Linked DNA regions of Homo sapiens. The protein of the gene in region 1 purifies or fractionates together with the protein of each later gene. This does not show direct contact. Each region holds a gene or a part of one and is shown in the gene's direction. Other genes may lie near its edges. The genes, in order: SAP30L, HDAC3, INSR, HDAC1 and HDAC2.

Evidence for each region.
Region 2: the proteins of SAP30L (region 1) and HDAC3 purify together in Homo sapiens (affinity purification with western blotting, with the first as the bait; one study listed by BioGRID). This does not show direct contact.
Region 3: the proteins of SAP30L (region 1) and INSR purify together in Homo sapiens (co-immunoprecipitation; one large-scale study listed by IntAct). This does not show direct contact.
Region 4: the proteins of SAP30L (region 1) and HDAC1 purify together in Homo sapiens (co-immunoprecipitation; 6 studies listed by BioGRID and IntAct, with this or other methods). This does not show direct contact.
Region 5: the proteins of SAP30L (region 1) and HDAC2 purify together in Homo sapiens (affinity purification with mass spectrometry; 3 studies listed by BioGRID and IntAct, with this or other methods). This does not show direct contact.

What each region holds. Positions count from the first base shown.
Region 1 is NC_000005.10:154,452,494-154,456,013, forward strand, and holds part of SAP30L (histone deacetylase complex subunit SAP30L), read left to right. Parts: exon of another isoform or gene 1-6; intron 7-908; coding exon 909-1,007; intron 1,008-3,406; coding exon 3,407-3,520.
Region 2 is NC_000005.10:141,623,600-141,626,853, reverse strand, and holds part of HDAC3 (histone deacetylase 3), read left to right. Parts: intron 1-570; coding exon 571-660; intron 661-782; coding exon 783-841; intron 842-1,089; coding exon 1,090-1,169; intron 1,170-1,488; coding exon 1,489-1,646; coding exon of another isoform or gene 1,647-1,734; exon of another isoform or gene 1,735-1,992; intron 1,993-3,254. UniProt on the Homo sapiens protein: Histone deacetylase that catalyzes the deacetylation of lysine residues on the N-terminal part of the core histones (H2A, H2B, H3 and H4), and some other non-histone substrates.
Region 3 is NC_000019.10:7,284,396-7,287,915, reverse strand, and holds part of INSR (insulin receptor isoform Long preproprotein), read left to right. Parts: intron 1-3,520. UniProt on the Homo sapiens protein: Receptor tyrosine kinase which mediates the pleiotropic actions of insulin.
Region 4 is NC_000001.11:32,298,573-32,302,092, forward strand, and holds part of HDAC1 (histone deacetylase 1), read left to right. Parts: intron 1-3,520. UniProt on the Homo sapiens protein: Histone deacetylase that catalyzes the deacetylation of lysine residues on the N-terminal part of the core histones (H2A, H2B, H3 and H4).
Region 5 is NC_000006.12:113,957,639-113,961,158, reverse strand, and holds part of HDAC2 (histone deacetylase 2), read left to right. Parts: intron 1-1,140; coding exon 1,141-1,253; intron 1,254-2,392; coding exon 2,393-2,510; intron 2,511-3,520. UniProt on the Homo sapiens protein: Histone deacetylase that catalyzes the deacetylation of lysine residues on the N-terminal part of the core histones (H2A, H2B, H3 and H4).

The sequences.
Region 1 (3,520 bases):
AGGCAGGTAAAGGCAGCCCAACTTTATGGGCCTTCAATTTTTCATGACTATGCAGCTTTCCTCTCTTCCTTTGTTAGAAACAAAAAGGGGGGGTCCCTTCCCCTCTGTTATCCAGTCATCTGCAAAGACCCCAGCCCTAACCTGCTGGATTGCACATTCACTACAGTAACTTTTGAACTTTCTCTGGAGGGAGGTTAAGGATTCTAATACCAGAAGGCTGGGCCTAGCAAAGAGCTATTTGAGGATAACAGCCCTCCTTTGTGCTCCTCTATCCGGTCGCTGCCTCGTTCTGGCCTATCATCCTCCAGGATGTCTCTGGTTTTTGCCTTTGCTCTCCATCTTTGGTGTCCCTTCTAGCATCACTGCCCCTCCAAAGCTCAGCCTCTTCATCTCATTCTGATTGTTGCTATAGCATCTCCCTCCGTATCCCCCCATCAGTCTTCCCAACAACCACCACCAGACCCATCCTGCGCCATCGCCCTCCACCCTCTGTGATAGCTCCTTCTGTTTTTCTGGATGTGCTACCATCCATTCTCACCTTTTAAATTCATCACAGTTGCCTGTGACCCCCTTGCCCATCTGTGCCTCTCCCAGCTCTCTGTGCTGTGATCTTTTCCCCTATTCCCTACCGTTTCTCAGTGCTTTATCAGACCCTGCTCCTCCTTAGCTTAAGCTTTACCTTTTCCACCAGTTTTGTGAGATCAGCCCACCCCAGCCAGAACTGTTTTTCTACTGTTATTTTTGCCCTCCTAGCCAGTTACTAGTCCTCAATAGACCATTTCTAAGACCTCTTTTGAAGCCCTCCCCATCCTCACCCCTACCTTAGTGTAGTGCTAGGCACATAGTGGGCTCTTGGTGAGTCCTGGGTGGTCAGGTGATGGATAACATTTTTCTCCTCTTCTCCCTAGGTTGATCTGTTCCAGCTGCAGGTGAACACCCTACGACGTTATAAACGACACTACAAGTTGCAGACCAGACCAGGCTTCAATAAGGCCCAGTTAGCAGAAGTAGGTAGACAAAATTGCCCTCTAAAGAGAGCCAGCATTGTGCTGCTTCTGATGGTTACCCTGATTCTCCCTTACCTTGTGTGTCTGCTAATTGTAATTTCCTCCAGAGTTCTGGAAGCAACTCTGTATTCCTCTTTGGCAATTTAGAACCCCACAGCTTTAGACCTGCAAAGGCCTCAGTTCCAGAAAAGAAACCATGGCACAGAAAGAGGAAAGGATTTGCTTAAAATCACACAGCAAGTTGATAGCAGAATTGAGCCTGGGATCTCATGACTCCAGATTCTAAGTCCTGAGTGTTCATTTGTTTGAATCTTTTTTGGAAGATTCCTCTTTTTGTTTTTTTGGAGACAAGATTTTGCTTTATCACCCAGGCTAGAGTGCAGTGGCTCAGTCTGGGCTGACTGCAGCCCCAACCTCCCAGCTTCAAGTGATCCTTCCCACCTCAGCCTCCAGAGTAGCTAGGACCACAGGTGCACACCCCTATGCACAGCTAATTTTATTTTTATAGAGATGCAGCCTCACTATGTTGCTCAAGTGATTCTCTTTGGCTCAAGCCATCCTTCCACCTCAGCCTCCCAAAGTGCTGAGATTACAGGCGTGAGCCACTGTGCCTGGCTTAGCAAAATGCTTTTTAGATATGATCATTTTGTGTGTCAGATTAATCATTTCAAAACCTTGATGTTCTACAGGAGCTATTTTTTTTTCCTTGATTTCTCCTACTCTGGTGTTGGTAATGACAGTATTTTAATGAATGGCACCCAAGAAAGTTTTCTCCTGCCCTGAGTTATTAACACAGTTTGGATTACGGGGAAATGCTCCACTGGCCATTTTTAAAATACATGAACTGCCTGGCTTGATAATTCTGTCTTTGTCATTTCTGCAGGTATTTTCTAATCCCTCTTTTCTTAATATATTTTTCTGCCTATTACAGAAAAGTTGGAAAATGGAGAAAAGAAAAATATAATTCTATCATCCAGAGATAACCACTCTTTATGTCTAGTTCTCTGTCTTTTTTTATCTGTTTCAGCCACCTTGATCCATTGAGATTTCCTGAAAGGCTTCCAGCCTGTTTCATTTTTGGTTTTTCCTTTAGAGGTTTCTTGCTCGACCGTCACTTTTTCTTAAACAACTCCTTCACCAGTGTCCAGATGACACACAGGAGGTCAGAAGCCTCTCCTACTTTAAAATAACATCACCCATTTGCCAGTGTTCTCCCTGGTGGAAGGGAAAGAATGAGGTGGGGCAAGAGGAGACCTGCATTCTCATTACTTATGGAATGAAGTATTAGGAGCATTAGTAAATGATGCATTTTCCTTCAAACCTGATATGTCTTTCAGGAGGCAGTTATGCACTACTTAGAAGAATTTTGGGGTTCAGATGCCTCTGTTCAATTTGTTCAATTGGCTGTTCATTTAACACAATTTTTTTTTTTTTTTAAAGACAGAGTCTTGCTCTATCTCCCAGGCTGGAGTGCATTGCTATGATCTCAGCTCACCACAGCCTCCACCTCCCGGGTTCAAGTGATTCTTCTCCATGTTTCCCGAGTGGCTGGGATTACAGGTGCCTGTCACCACACCCGGCTAATCTTTGTATTTTTAGTAGAGGCTGGGTTTCACCATGTTGGCCAGGCTGGTCTCGGACTCCTGACTTCAGGTGATCTGCCTGCCTTGGCCTCCCAAAGTGCTAGGATTACAGGTGTGAGCCACCATCCCCAGCCTAACCCAATTTTTATTTGTTTTTGAGACAAGGTCTTGCTCTGTCTCCTAGGCTGGGGTGCAGTCACAGCTCACTGCAGCTTCAACCTCCTGGGCTCAAGTGATCCTCCCACCTCAGCCTCCTGAGTAGCTGGGACCACAGGTGCATGCTACGACACCTGGCTAATTTTTTGGTAGAGATGAGTTCTCCACTGTGTTGCCTAGGCTGGTCTCGAACTCCTGGCCTCAACTAATCCTCCCACCTTAACCTCCCAAAGCATTGGGATTATAGGTGTGAGCCACCACGCCTGCCCCACAATTTTTTAAAGACACATTTCTTCCCACTTTCAAGGCCTGAGAGGTTTGGTAGCAGCTGGCCAACCAGAGCAGTCCCAGTCTCTCCTCCATGAGTATGACTGTGAAATCATGCCATGACAGGTGGTTGGCTGCCACTGAAATAGAACTGCACCTTGGAAGAGTTGTAGGTTAAAAAGCCACTTTTGGATCCTGGAAATTAAACCACCTACATCCCTGGGGAGGAAGGGCAAAGGGCACTCTGAGTTCCGCACATGGCAGGAAGTTCTTCAGCATTTGTCATTCCCGCCACAGCATGCAAACAACTCCATTCGCTTCTTTGTACAATGTAGAATTTGCGGTGTGATTTGTGCATGGTTTAAGGAACTTTGGTATTTTCCCCCCACATAGACTGTGAGTCGACACTTCAGGAACATACCTGTGAATGAAAAAGAGACCCTTGCCTACTTCATCTACATGGTGAAGAGTAACAAGAGTAGACTGGACCAGAAATCGGAGGGTGGC
Region 2 (3,254 bases), about 13 Mb from region 1:
GGGTGGCAATGGAGAGAAGTAGATGATCTGAGAGGTGTGTGTGTGTGTGTGTGTATATATATATATATACACACACACACACACATATATATGTTTTTTTTTTTCTTTTTTGAGATGGAGTCTTGCTCTGTCACCCAGGCTGGAGTGCAGTGGCACGATCTTGGCTCAGTGCAAGCTCTGCCTCCTGGGTTCAAGCATTTCTCCTGCCTCAGCCTCCTGAGTAGCTGGGACTACTACAAAGGCGTGAGCACCGCGCCGGGCGTGAGTTATATTTTCAAGGCTAGAATTGACAGAACTTGGGTTGATGAGAATAGTTGATTAGCAGGCAGGGTGCCAGGGAGGGTGTTGAGCAGAACAGAGGGGGGACTGTGCTTTATTTTAAAATTTTTATTGAGACACAGCATATAAAGTATACCCAAATCTTAAGGGTATAACATAATGAATTTCACTATCAAGATAAAGATTTAGAACATTTATAGTTTTCTTGTGCTCCTTTCAGGCAATACCTAAAGGTATTTACCTTGTCTTTTGATAACCTCCTCCACATCTTCCTCTGGTTCCTTTTAACAGGGAATGCGTTGAATATGTCAAGAGCTTCAATATCCCTCTACTCGTGCTGGGTGGTGGTGGTTATACTGTCCGAAATGTTGCCCGCTGCTGGTGAGCACTCTCCTGATTTCCTCCCCTGTTGTCCAGTGTGAGCTAGGGTGTCCCTCAGATATGGCCACATGGGTCCTTCAGCCCACTTGGTCAGCCTGCTCCCCTCTGCTGGTTGGTTTCAGGACATATGAGACATCGCTGCTGGTAGAAGAGGCCATTAGTGAGGAGCTTCCCTATAGTGGTAAGGACCACCCCACAACACCCCCATAACAGGAAGGCCATTCTCACCAGATTCCAGAATGACCTGGTTTGAAGGCACATGGGAAATTTTACACTCTCAGAGCTCTGCAGACTAAACCCCTGGGCTCAGAGCAGGGAAGAGATTGGGCAGCTATTATGTAGGTGCTCTGGATGGGAAGGAAAAAGATTGGGAAGTCTTGTTAGCTGCCTTTCTCAGTCTGAGCCATACTTTCTCCTCTCCTCCCCAAGAATACTTCGAGTACTTTGCCCCAGACTTCACACTTCATCCAGATGTCAGCACCCGCATCGAGAATCAGAACTCACGCCAGGTCAGCAGCTCAGAAAAGCTGAGCACAAACTTCTCCTGAAAGGTGGAGCCCAGGAGAGGTCAAAGATGTGGGAAGTAGGAAAAACCAAAGAGAAGGAAGTTCTAAGCCATCACAGTCACTGTTATTGACTAGGAGGCAGTCCAGTTTAAAGTAGAGGCAGTTGGGGTTGGTGGGGAGGGAGAGCTATCAGTTGGGGGACCTGAACTAGAGGTACCACTGAGATGAAAACCAGTATGGTAGGGGTAAAAGGCAGCTAGGAGATTCCATGTCCTGGGAATCTCTGGAAACTGCTCACTCTGTATTCCTCATTTCCAACCAGTATCTGGACCAGATCCGCCAGACAATCTTTGAAAACCTGAAGATGCTGAACCATGCACCTAGTGTCCAGATTCATGACGTGCCTGCAGACCTCCTGACCTATGACAGGACTGATGAGGCTGATGCAGAGGAGAGGGGTCCTGAGGAGAACTATAGCAGGTCTGGGAGCAGGGACTTCAGCCTACTTTCAATAGGCTTGCTGGGGAGGTTTAAAAGGGAAAAAGTAAATGGGAAGGTATTAGTTTAATTGCCTCTGGCTTACCTCCTTTAGTCTGCTACAATTTCCTCACTCTTTTCTTTGTTATTTTTAATGACAAAAGTAACACGTATTTATTGCAAAATTTTAAAACAGCACCAAAATATGGTGTTGGCGTTCACACAATCCCAGACCTATTCCACAGGAGTAACCACTGTTAATAGTTTTTATTGTTTTGGATAGACCTTTTTCTATAGATTGCAAATATACTATTCTGTATGTACATATAAACAAACACATATACACTCATTTACAGTTTGTGTGGTTTTTGGTTTTTCGTAAATACAAATAGGGTCATTCTACGTATGCTGCTTTACATCATATAGCTGTTTTCAGCTAGCTAATATAGATCTGCTTCAGTATTTTATCAGCTGTATAATAATTTACTATGTGGATAGATTATTTTCCATTTTTTTGGTATTACAATAATAATGTGGCAATGAACCCCCTTACATTATACATCTTTGCATTCTTGTTTGAGTGGGTTAGATAGTAGAATGGTTGCTGCTAGGTCAAAGGCTGTGTGCATTAATTTTTTTTTTTTTTTTTTTTTTGAGACAGGGTCTCATTCTGTCACCCAGGCTGGAGTACAGTGGCATGATTATAGCTCACTGCAATCTTGAACTCCTGGGTTCAAGCGATCCTCCTGCCTCAGCCCCTCGAGTAGCTGGAATCATAGGTGTGCACCACGACACCTGGCTAATTTTTTTTTTTTTTTTTTTTTTTTTTTTTTTTTTTGGTAGAGACGGAGTCTTGCCTTGTTGCCCAGGCTGGTCTCAAACTCCTGGGCTCAAATGTCCTCCTGCCCCAGCCTTCCAAAGTGCTGGGATTATAGGCGTGAGCCACTGAGCCTGGCCTAAAATTTTTTATATTTGCTGCCAAATTGCCGTCCAGAAAGTCTGTAGCACCCTATAGTCTTGCCAGCATTTTTCTCAGTCTTTCCAGGTCTTGAGCTGGACAGGTCACTGCCTGCGTAATACTCTCTAAGGCTCTTTGATTTCTTTGCTCTGTTAATTTTTTCGGGTGGGATAATTGCATTGTGGTTATGTTTTTTTTTTTTTTTTAAAAGTCTTTATCTTTCTGAGATACATACAAAATATTTGTAGATGGAATGAATTAGGGGGGAAAAAGGATAGGATGGAATTTTTTTTTAATCCCAAAACTTTGCTGAAAAATGAAAGGGAAAGACAACAGAACCAAGAAGTGCAGAAACAGATGCACTTAATGGGGAACAGATTTCCTTACATGACTGAGGGATAACCACAGCTGGACACTTGTGGGACACGCTGTCTTGCTCCCACGCAGGGTTAGAGGTTTGAGCCGGCTCTGCTGCAGAGCCTGATGGGCTTCTCAGCCCCTTCTAGAATCTGCTTCTGTCTTAGAATTCAGGCCTCCGAATCTCTCCTCTGGACCTGGGCTTTACTGCTCTGACTCTTGGGGATCTCTGCAACTCTCTTCCTCCAAGGATATCCCCCGATCCCTTCTGAGTGAGGAAGTGTCTGAACATCTGG
Region 3 (3,520 bases), on another chromosome or scaffold:
ACGGCAGGTTGAGTAGTTAAAACAGGAATTCCATGGCCAAAATATTTACACTTTGGCCCTTTACAGAACAGCGTTTGCTGACCTCTGATCTGGAACAGACGCCTTGAGGTTTCATTCATGATAGCATGCCTAATAGCTTGTGCAGTCCCTGGTACAACTCGAATGAAGTGAGTGAAATGAAACGCTATGTCTTTCTCTTTACACCGCAAGAGATGTTAAAGAAACGTGTGTCATTTGCTGCACTGAATATACGGATTCCAAGGATGAGAAAAATCACCGTGATGTTGCCTACTTAGCCATGTGTATTTATTTAAACAGCTATATTGGCATTGAATGAGGATTTCATGCTCTCAACCCTGTATCTAGAACCCAAAATATAACTGGTGTATATAATGAGATTTTTTTTTTTTCTCTCAGGCCTCTCTTGTGTTAATTTCTGTTAAGAATACTTCTGGGCCAGGTGTGGTGGCTCACGCCTGTAATCCCAAGCACTTTGGGAGGCCGAGGTGGGTGGATCACTTGAGGTCAGGAGTTCGAGACCAGCCTGACCAACATGGTGAAACCCCATCTTTACTGAAAAAATACAAAATTAGCCAGGCGTGGTGGCGCATGCCTGTAATCCCAGCTAGTTGGGAGGCTGAGGCAGGAGAATCGCTTGAACCTGGGAGGTGGAGGTTGCAGTGAGCCGAGATTGCGCCACTGCACTCTAGCCTGGGTGACAGAGCGAAACTCCATCTCAAAAAAAAAAAAAAAAAAGAATATTTTTGGCCAGGTGCAGTGGCTCATGCCTGCAATCCCAGCACTCTGGGAGGCTGAGGTGGGAGGATTACATGTGTCCAGGAGTTTCAGATCAGCCTGGACAACACAGCAAGACCCTGTCTCCACTAACAATAAAACAAAAATTAGCTGGGCATGGTGGCATGTGTCTGTAGTCCCAGCTACTTGGGAGGCTGAGATGGGAGGACCTCTTGAGGCTGGAAGGGCAAGGCTGCAGTGAGCTGTGATTGTACCACTGCACTCCAGCCTGGGCAACAGTGAGATCCTCTCTCTGTCTCAAACAAAAAAAGAATACTTCTTGGGGTGGCCTGGTTGATATTTTGCAGCTGCATGGTATTTACAGTTTTTAATTAAATAGTGACGGGTAATGCATTCTCATTGCAAAAAGAAAAATTACAAAAGTGTAGAAAGGAAAAAAAAAACACAGAAGTCCTTCTGCAAAATCTTGTGGTGGGGTGCAGTGGCTCACACCTGTAATCCCTGGACTTTTTAGGAAGCTGAGGTGGGAGGAACACTTGAAGCCAGCAGTTTGAGACCAGCCTGGGCAACATAATGAGACATTATCTCTAGAAAAAGTTTAAAAATTAGCTGAGCATGGTGGTGTGTACCGGTAGTCCCAGCTACTCAGGAGGCTGAGGTGGGAGGATCGCTTGAGCCCAGAAGGTTGAGGCTACAGTAAGCCATATTCATGCCACTGCACTCCAACCTGGGTGATAGAGCCCGACCCTGTCTCAAAAAGAAAAGAAATAATAAAAAAAAATCTTGTCCCCCTGTCCCCAAAAGCATTCCATTCATGTCCAGGGAGGTAACTGTGCCATTGGTTTATGTATCTTTTTGATGTTTAGTAATTTTTTAGGCTAGGTGTCATGGGGCCACTCCTGTAATCCCAGCACTTTGGGAGGCCGAAGCAGGTGGATCTCTTGAGCCCAGGAGTTCAAGACCAGCCTGGGTAACATAGCAAGACCCCGTCTCTACAAAACCCTACAAAAAAATTATCCAGATACAGTGGTGAGCACCTGTGGTCCCAGCTACTAGGGAGGCTGAGGTGGGAGGATCACCTGAGCCTGGGAAGTCGAGGCGCCAGTGAGCTGTGATTGCACCACTGCATCCAGCCTGGGTGACATAGTGAGACTGTGTAACAACAACAACAACAAAATATTTTAAACATTATCATACAGTAAAATTGGCTTTTTAAAGGTGTACCATTTTATGATTTTTAAGCCATGTGTAGAGTTGTATGGCTATTGCCACAATTAGGATAGAGAACAGTCTCGTTGTTGTCCAAACTCCCTCAATTCACCCCTTTATCACTAAACCACCTCCACCCCTAACCACAGATCTGTTCTCCATCCCTATAGTTTTCTCTAGACTTTAAAAGATTTTATCTTATAATTGGATTAATATTCCTAAAGTTGAAATTTTAAATTTGAGTCTGGTTGATCCTCATCATTCCCAGATCCCATATTTTCTTTTTAAAATTTAAAATTTAAATTTTTATTTTGAGAGGCAGGTTCTTGCTCTGATACCCAGGCTGGAGTGCAGTGGTGTGGTCCTAATTCCCTGCAGCCTCCAACTCTTGAGCATCAACGATCCTCCTGCCTCAGCCTCCTGAGTAGCTGGGACTACAGGCACACACCACCATGCTCAGCTAGTTTTTATTGTTATTTATTTATTTATTTATTTTTGAGACGGAGTCTCACTAACTCTGTTGCCCAGGCCAGACTGCAGTGGTGTGATCTGGGTTCACTGCAACCTCTGCTTCCTGGGCTCAAGCAACTCTCCTGCCTCAGCCTTTCTAGTAGCTGGGGTTACAGGCACGCCACCATGCCCGGCTAGTTTTTTTTATTTTTAGTAGAGATGGGGTTTTACCATGTTGGTCAGGCTGGTCTCAAACTCCTGGCTTCAAGTGATCCGCCCACTTCAGCCTCCCAAAGTGCTGGGATTACAGGCGCGAGCCACTGTGCCCGGCCTAATTTTTAACTTTTCAGCAGGGATAAGGGCTCGCTATGTTGCCCAGGCTGGTCTCGAACTCCTGGCCTCAAGTGATCCTCCCATCTTGACTTCCTAAAGTACTGGGATTACAGGCATGAGCCACTGCACCTGGCCCCAGACCCTGTATTTTTGAATTCACCTACTCACTCAAATGTATTTGTAACCCTCAAACCAGCATGCTCAGTGCCTTTCTGGTCATTTTAGGACACTCATAAGTACGAGTCTCAAATGTGAGGTCAAGTAAGAGGGCATTCCACCTTCTTGCTTCAGCCCTTATGCGTCAGATTCATACAATCTGCACACTGAGGATTAAAACTAGTCCTTTTTGAGCAGGCGCAGTGGCTCATGCCCAGCGCTTTGGGAGTCCGAGGCGAGTGGATCACGAGGTCAGGAGATCGAGACCATCCTGGCTAACATGGTGAAACCCTGTCTCTACTAAAAATACAAAAAATTAGCCAGGTGTGGTGGCGGGCGCCTGTAGTCCGAGCTACTCCGGAGGCTGAGGCAGGAGAATCACTTGGACCCAGGAGGTGGAGGTTGCAGTGAGCCGAGATTGTGCCTCTGCACTCCAGCCTGGGTGACAGGGTGAGACTCAAAACAAAAAACAACAACAAAAAAACCTGAGTCCTTTTTGTGGTTATTTGGTGCCACATTTTTAGCATTTTTGTGCTTTCAGTTGGTGATGGGGCTGTTTCAAATGCCCCCCAGGGTGCTGAAGCCCTGCTCTCTACTCTTCCTTGGCTAAGGAGGG
Region 4 (3,520 bases), on another chromosome or scaffold:
TTCAGATTTGGCTCTGCCATTGAGAAGCTTTGTAATATCAGGCAAGTCACCTTACATTTCAGATTTCTCTCCTATAAAATCAAAATGATAGGAGTTCCTATTATGAGAACAATGATGGGAAAGCTCTTTAAGAGTTTAAAGTATGGCTGGCGCCATGGCTCACGTCTGTAATCCCAGCACTTTGAGAGGCCGAGGTGGGCGGATCACTTGAGGTCAGGAGTTCAAGACAAGCCTGGGCAACATGGTGAAACCCTGACTCTACTAAAAATACAAAACTTAGCCAGGCGTGGTGGCACATGTCTGTAATCCCAGCTACTCAGGAGGCTGAGGCAGGAGAATTGTTTGAACCTGGGAGGCAGAGGTTGCAGTGAGCCTGAGATCGCACCACTGCACTCCAGCCTGGGTGACAGAGTGAGACTCTGTCTCCAAAAATAAAAATTAAAATTAAGTAGTACCTAAATAAAAAGGACCATTTCTTTTAAAGTCTCTCAGCAACCTGATTAAGATATAGAGATATATCTTTATTTTAATTACAGTAAATTTAATCATAAAGGATGCAGTCACCCAAGAAGTTATATAGAAGAGGATCCAGGGTGGAATTCTAAGGAAGTGGACAGTGTCCCTCATGCTGTGTGCTCCCCTGTCATAGCATTTGTCAATGTGTATAGGAATACACACAGCACGGGTTGGCAAACTAATTAAAAACTGTTAAGAAAAGGATGGTTGGCCTGCACTGTTGGAGGCTCACATCTGTAATCCCAGCACTTTAGAAGGCTGATCAGGAGTTTGAAACCAGCCTGGGCAACAAAGCAAGATGCCATCTCTACAAACAAACAAACAAAAACATCAAACAAAAAAAAACATAAAAAGAAAAGGATGCTGTCTCAGAGCCCCACCCTCACTACCCTCACCTCAGATACTCCCTTAACCTTCTGGATAAGATATCTTAGTCCCCCAGGTCTGAGCCTTGGCTGGATCTAGGCTTGATAGGCAAGGGAGTTGCTAGGGATCAAGGCTCATGCCTTTTTTTCACTGGGTGCCTAGAGCTCTGCCTCATCCTAATAAATCTCTAAGGAGAGATCTTTGGGTGTGTAGTTCACTTGATTTTGCAACATTGTTCAAGGAATTTTCTATCAGGTAGACTTATAGAGCCCTCTAGATTAAGTGCAAACTGAAGTAGGTACCTGAGAAGCCCAATGTAGGGCCTGGCACGGTGGCTCACACCTGTAATCCCAGCACTTTGGGAGGCCGAGGTGGACGGATCACGAGGTCAGGAGATCAAGACCATCCTGGTTAACACGGTGAAACCCCGTCTTTACTAAAAGTACAAAAAAAATTAGCCGGGCTTGATGGCAGGCATCTGTAGTCCCAGCTGCTTGGGAGGCTGAGGCAGGAGAATGGCGTGAACCCTGGAGGCGGAGCTTGCAGTGAGCCGAGATCGCACCACTGCACTCCAGCCTGGGCGACAGAGCGAGACTCTGTCTCAAAAAAAAAGAAAAAAGGAAAATCCAATGTAGCTTTTAGCATATTGGATTTGGAGTCCGAAGAGTGGACTCCAGATCAGTCATTAGCTGTGTGATCTTGAGCAGGCACTTAACTTCTCTGAGTCTCAATTCAATTCATTGAATCTTTATTGAGCCTCTGTGATATACAAGGCATATTAATCCTTGCCTTCAAGGGGTACCCAGTCTTGTGGATATAGTCATGTAAATAATTCAGATATAAAACAATCCTAGCACTTTGGGAGGCTGAGGTGGGCATATCACTTGAGGTGAGGAGTTCCAGACCAGCCAGGCCAACATAGTGAAACCCCACCTCTACTAAATATGAAAATTAGCTGGATTTGGTGGCACGCACCTGTAATCCCAGCAATTTAGGAGGCTGAGGCAGGAGAACTGCTTGAACCTGGGAGGCAGAGGTTGCACTGAGCCGCCGAGATAGTACCATTGCACTCCAGCCTAGGCGACAGAGTGAGACTCCGTCTCAAGAAATAAAAAAAAAAAGAAAAGAAAACTAATGAAGTGCTGTATACAAATTGCATGTAGAGGAAAAGACCATTTATTTTGATCAAGAAAGGGTTTGGAGCTTGAGGTGGGCTTTGTAGTATGAGCATCATCAAAGAAAGGAGGACATTTCAGGTCAAAGGAATAGTCTGCACAGAGGATACTGTGGTGTGAAGGTGAATGTCATGTTCAGGATACTGATCATAATCTGGTGTGTCTGGAGCACAGGTTGGCAAACTTTTTCTATATAGGGCCAGATAGTAAATATTTTAGGCTTTATTTTGCCATATGCTTGGGTGTCTGTGGCAACTAAACTGCTCAGCTCTGCCACTGTAGTGTGAAAACAGCCATAGAGGAACTGTAAACGGATGGGCATGGCTGTGTTCCAATAAAATTTTATTTACCAAAACAGGCAACTAGTTGTATTTGTCCCAAGGGCCATAGTTTGCCTACTCCAGTCTAGAGCAAAGAGAGAGAGAGAGTGAGTGTGTGTGTGTTGTGGGAAAGGGTGGTAGCAGGAGATGAAGCTGGAAAGGCAGGTTAAGAAAGTCCTTGGATGAAGCTGGAAAGGCAGATTAAGAAAGTCCTTGGCCGGGCGCGGTGGCTCATGCCTGTAATCCCAGCACTTTGGGAGGCCGAGGCGGGCAGATCACAAGGTCAGGAGATCAAGACCATCCTGGCTAACACAATGAAACCCCGTCTGTACTAAAAATACAAAAAATTAGCTGGGCATGGTGGCAGGCGCCTGTAGTCCCAGCTACTCGGGAGGCTGAGGCAGGAGAATGGCGTGAACCCTGGAGGCGGAGCTTGCAGTGAGCTGAGATCGCGCCACTGCACTCCAGCCTGGGCAACACAGCGAGACTCTGTCTCAAAAAAATAAATAAATAAAGTAAAAGAAAGTCCTTGAATGCTGGCCAGGCGCGGTGGCTCACACCTGTAATCCCGGCACTTTGGGAGGCCGAGGTGAGTGGATCAACTGAGGTTAGGAGTTTGAGACCAGCCTGACCAACAAGGTGAAACCCCTTCTCTACTAAAAATACAAAAATTAGCCAGGCATGGTAGCACATGCCTGTGATGCCAGCTACTTGAGAGGCTGAGGCAGGAGAATTGTTTGAACCCAGGAGGCGAAGGTTGCAGTGAGCTGAGATTGCACCACTGCACTCCAGCTTGGGCAACAGATCGAGACTTGTCTCAAAAAAAAGAAAGTCCTTGAATGCCAGTCTTCTGAAGTTATTATTATTAAATGTTGAGACCCAGCCTGGTCTTGAACTCCTGGGCTCAAGTGATTTTCCTGCCTCAGCCTCCAGAGTAACTGGGATTACAGGCTCATGCCACCATGCCTATCTCTATTAAAGTTATTCTTTACTCTTTATCCTGTAGGGGATGGGGAGCCATAAGGATTTTTTGAGCGAAGGAGTGATGTTATCAGAATTGTGGATTAGGAAAATAACTCTGGTGACAGTGTGGCAGGTAGTGTGAATTGAAGGTAGAGGGACCAATTAGAAGGCTAGTGTTAT
Region 5 (3,520 bases), on another chromosome or scaffold:
AATGATAGACTTCAAACCATTAAAATAGCTTGACTGTCCTGACCCTGTGGGGAATTAGTTCCAAGACTTCCACAGATAGCAAAATTCATGGGTGTTTAAGTTCCTTCAATAAACTGGTATAGTATTTGCATATAACCTATGTATATCTCCCCTTACACTTTAAGTCATCTCTAGATTACTCATAATACCTAATACAATGCAAATGCAGTGTAAATAGTTGTTACACTGTATGATTTAGGGGAAGATTACAAGGAAAAAAAGTCTCTACGTGTTTCCAGCAGACACCACCATCTATTTTTTAAAAATATTTTCAGTCTGCAGTTGATTGAATCCACAGATACAGAGGGTTGACTTTATATATTTGAGAGGCTTCTTGTTATTTACTATTATAGGAAACACTGGAGCTTTACCTAAAAGTATTAATTTTATTGAAATTTAGTTGATGAAAATCTGTGATTTTGTTATTTTCTCTTTTTTAAATCTTATGCATAAGTTTAAAGACATTGTGATATAAGATGCCGTTTAAAAAGACAGGCTAGGAATTACAACTTTTTAGTCATGAAGAATGAGACAGTATTTTTATTACCTTGAAAAATGTAATGCTGTGTCTTAGTGGAGCAAAACCTCATTTAGGACCTAAATTTCAGTTACCAAAACTTCCCTGATGGGCTTTAATATGGACACGGTATGTTTTAACATGCAAAACGCCAATTATGAGATTTCTGAAATGCCAGCAAATCATCCAAAAAGCAGTATTTGCTGAAAAAATTTTAAATCATACCAATAAAACTCAGAGAACTTAAAAGCATGTGAATTTGCCAGAGAATACAGAAAGCAGGCATCATTTCAAGGAACAGAAATTTTAAAAATTGGGGGTAGCTAAAAATCAGAAAAGCTTGCTTTCCTTAATCTACAAATAAATATAATGTGTAATAATGGAGTCTTCAGCTGGTAAAAGTGTGCGTAGCGTCTTAGTCATCTGATACAGTTTGAAAGTTGCAAAATAAATCTAAGTTGCTAAGGTTTTAAATAAATTTTGTTAAGTAGTAAATGCCTTCTAATGATAGACATACATAAATTCAAATAGTTCATGGAGGGTCTCTTGTCTGTATTGTTTAGTTTGTGTCTTTTCTATTTTAGGTGATATTGGAAATTATTATTATGGACAGGGTCATCCCATGAAGCCTCATAGAATCCGCATGACCCATAACTTGCTGTTAAATTATGGCTTATACAGAAAAATGGAAATATATGTGAGTATTCCTTTTAATACATATTCAGCACTGATCTTTTTTATTTTTTTTTAGCTACTGTGAAACTTTGTCTATTATTCCCCTTTTGAGGGCATTTAGCAGATGAAAAGATCTGGAAGAAAACAAACTTCTTTTTTCGTTTATTCTTAGGAGATGAATAAGAATGAGAGCTATACCCTCTTTTTCCTTTTCCTTTAACCATTTAAAAAAGTTCCCCCTACCCTAGGCTTTCATGGTTCTGGAGAACAACTCAGTATAGCAACAACTCAGTGTAGCATATTAAGTATTTTTTTTTTTTTTTTTTTTTTTACAATAATTGTTAATCTGCCTGTGCTGCTGAAAAGAGTTGACCTGGGACTGTTACAAAATAATAACACATAAAATTAATCCCACAAATATTTGCAGGGCATATAATACATATGGAATACTGTGTTAGTGTGGCCAAGCATAGTACAGATAACACAAGTGCAACAGCTGCCTTAATGTTTTTGTAGATAAAGATGAGGGTATGTATAAACAAATACAGACACGACAATTAGCTATTTGGGGAGAAAAGAAATATTTAAAACAATTAATGCTAGGCAATATATGTGAATATGTGAATTATTTTCAGTTACATGTAGACATTTAGAGAAGAGGGGAAGTTAGAATAAGACTCAGTCTGGAAGTCTTGTGGAAGAATTGTGTCATACGTGAAATTGAGCTCTTCGGAACAAGGAAGATTAGGATAGAAAAAAGGACGAGAGGTCGTGAACAAAGATTTAGAATTGAAAACTCTTGTAGTGAGTGATTTCATTGATGAAATCACTGGATGTTTTATCATGGAAAAGGAGAGAAAGTAGAGTTTATGAACATATGGATTTGACTTTTTACTCGAACTGTTTCCACTAAAATAAGGAGTGATTAAATCATAGTTGATATGCCTGTGTAATGCTTTTAAAGGAGTTTGAATTAGTTTTGAGATTGATTACTGTTTTCTAAAACACATATAAGTTTGGGTTAGTTTTGGAATTTATATATTTTGTTCTGGTAGACTTGGTTCTTTTGAGGGGACCGATAGGGGAATTTGTATATTTGTTTGATAATACTGATATAACCGGTTGTAATTCCACAGTTCTGACATTTATTTCTCTTCACAGAGGCCCCATAAAGCCACTGCCGAAGAAATGACAAAATATCACAGTGATGAGTATATCAAATTTCTACGGTCAATAAGACCAGATAACATGTCTGAGTATAGTAAGCAGATGCAGAGATGTACGTTTCTAAGTAAAAAGTAGTTTTGCTTTGATAAATGTAAATTAGTATTTTTAGGAGCTTAGAATGATCTAAATCTGAATATTTTTCCTGTTGGTCTAATATGTTACAGTTATTTACTGATTTGAAAAGTCATTTTAACACTACTAAAGCTACTTAAGAAAAAAGTAAACCTATCTGAAGCTTATTGGTTTGCAAAACTGCTGTTTGGGTATTCTTCTACTCCTAGTTTGCTCCCCTGATAACTTTGGGTTAATACATATTGGTAGGGAGACCTCACTCCCTTACTCCCTCGCTTCAAAAAAACAAAAACAAGATTACACTTTGATTAGCCTTAGCTTGGCATGTACATATCTCTTGTCTTGTCTTTGTGTACTTCAGTTAACCTGGACTATAATACACATCTCTTTTTCTTTGTTAAGATATTAGTGAAGCTTTTGATTCTACGTAATGTTCTCTTGTACAGGTTAAAAGTATTTTATTTTTAGAGATTAGTAACAAATTGGCTTGAAGGTAGAATGCAAAAGTCAACCTAAAATTATTGGAACAGTATCTTTTAAAGCTTGATACCAAAGTTCATTCTCATTAGTGTTTGTATTGACTGACTTCAGTGATGATTATACTAAATTAGTGTAGGTGCTAGACATCTCATATTTACAACCTCATACACATTTCTGCCATATCTTGTTTGATTTGTTATAATGCTACAATGTAACTAGAACATGTAGTATTTAATTTTTTTTTTTTCAATGAAGATTCCAACTTAGATGCAAAAGAGGCATGAGTAGCCCTTGGGCAAACAACATAACAGGATTGATTTAAAACCCACATAATAATGAGTTCTATTAAGCTTATGATCCTGGCCAGGTGTGGTGGCTCACGCCTGTAATCCCAGCACTTTGGGAGGCGGAGGTGAGTGGATTACCTGAGGTCAGGAGTTCGAAACCAGCCTGGCCAACATGGCAAAACCCTGTCTCTATTAAAAAAGTACAGAAAATTAGCTGGGTGTG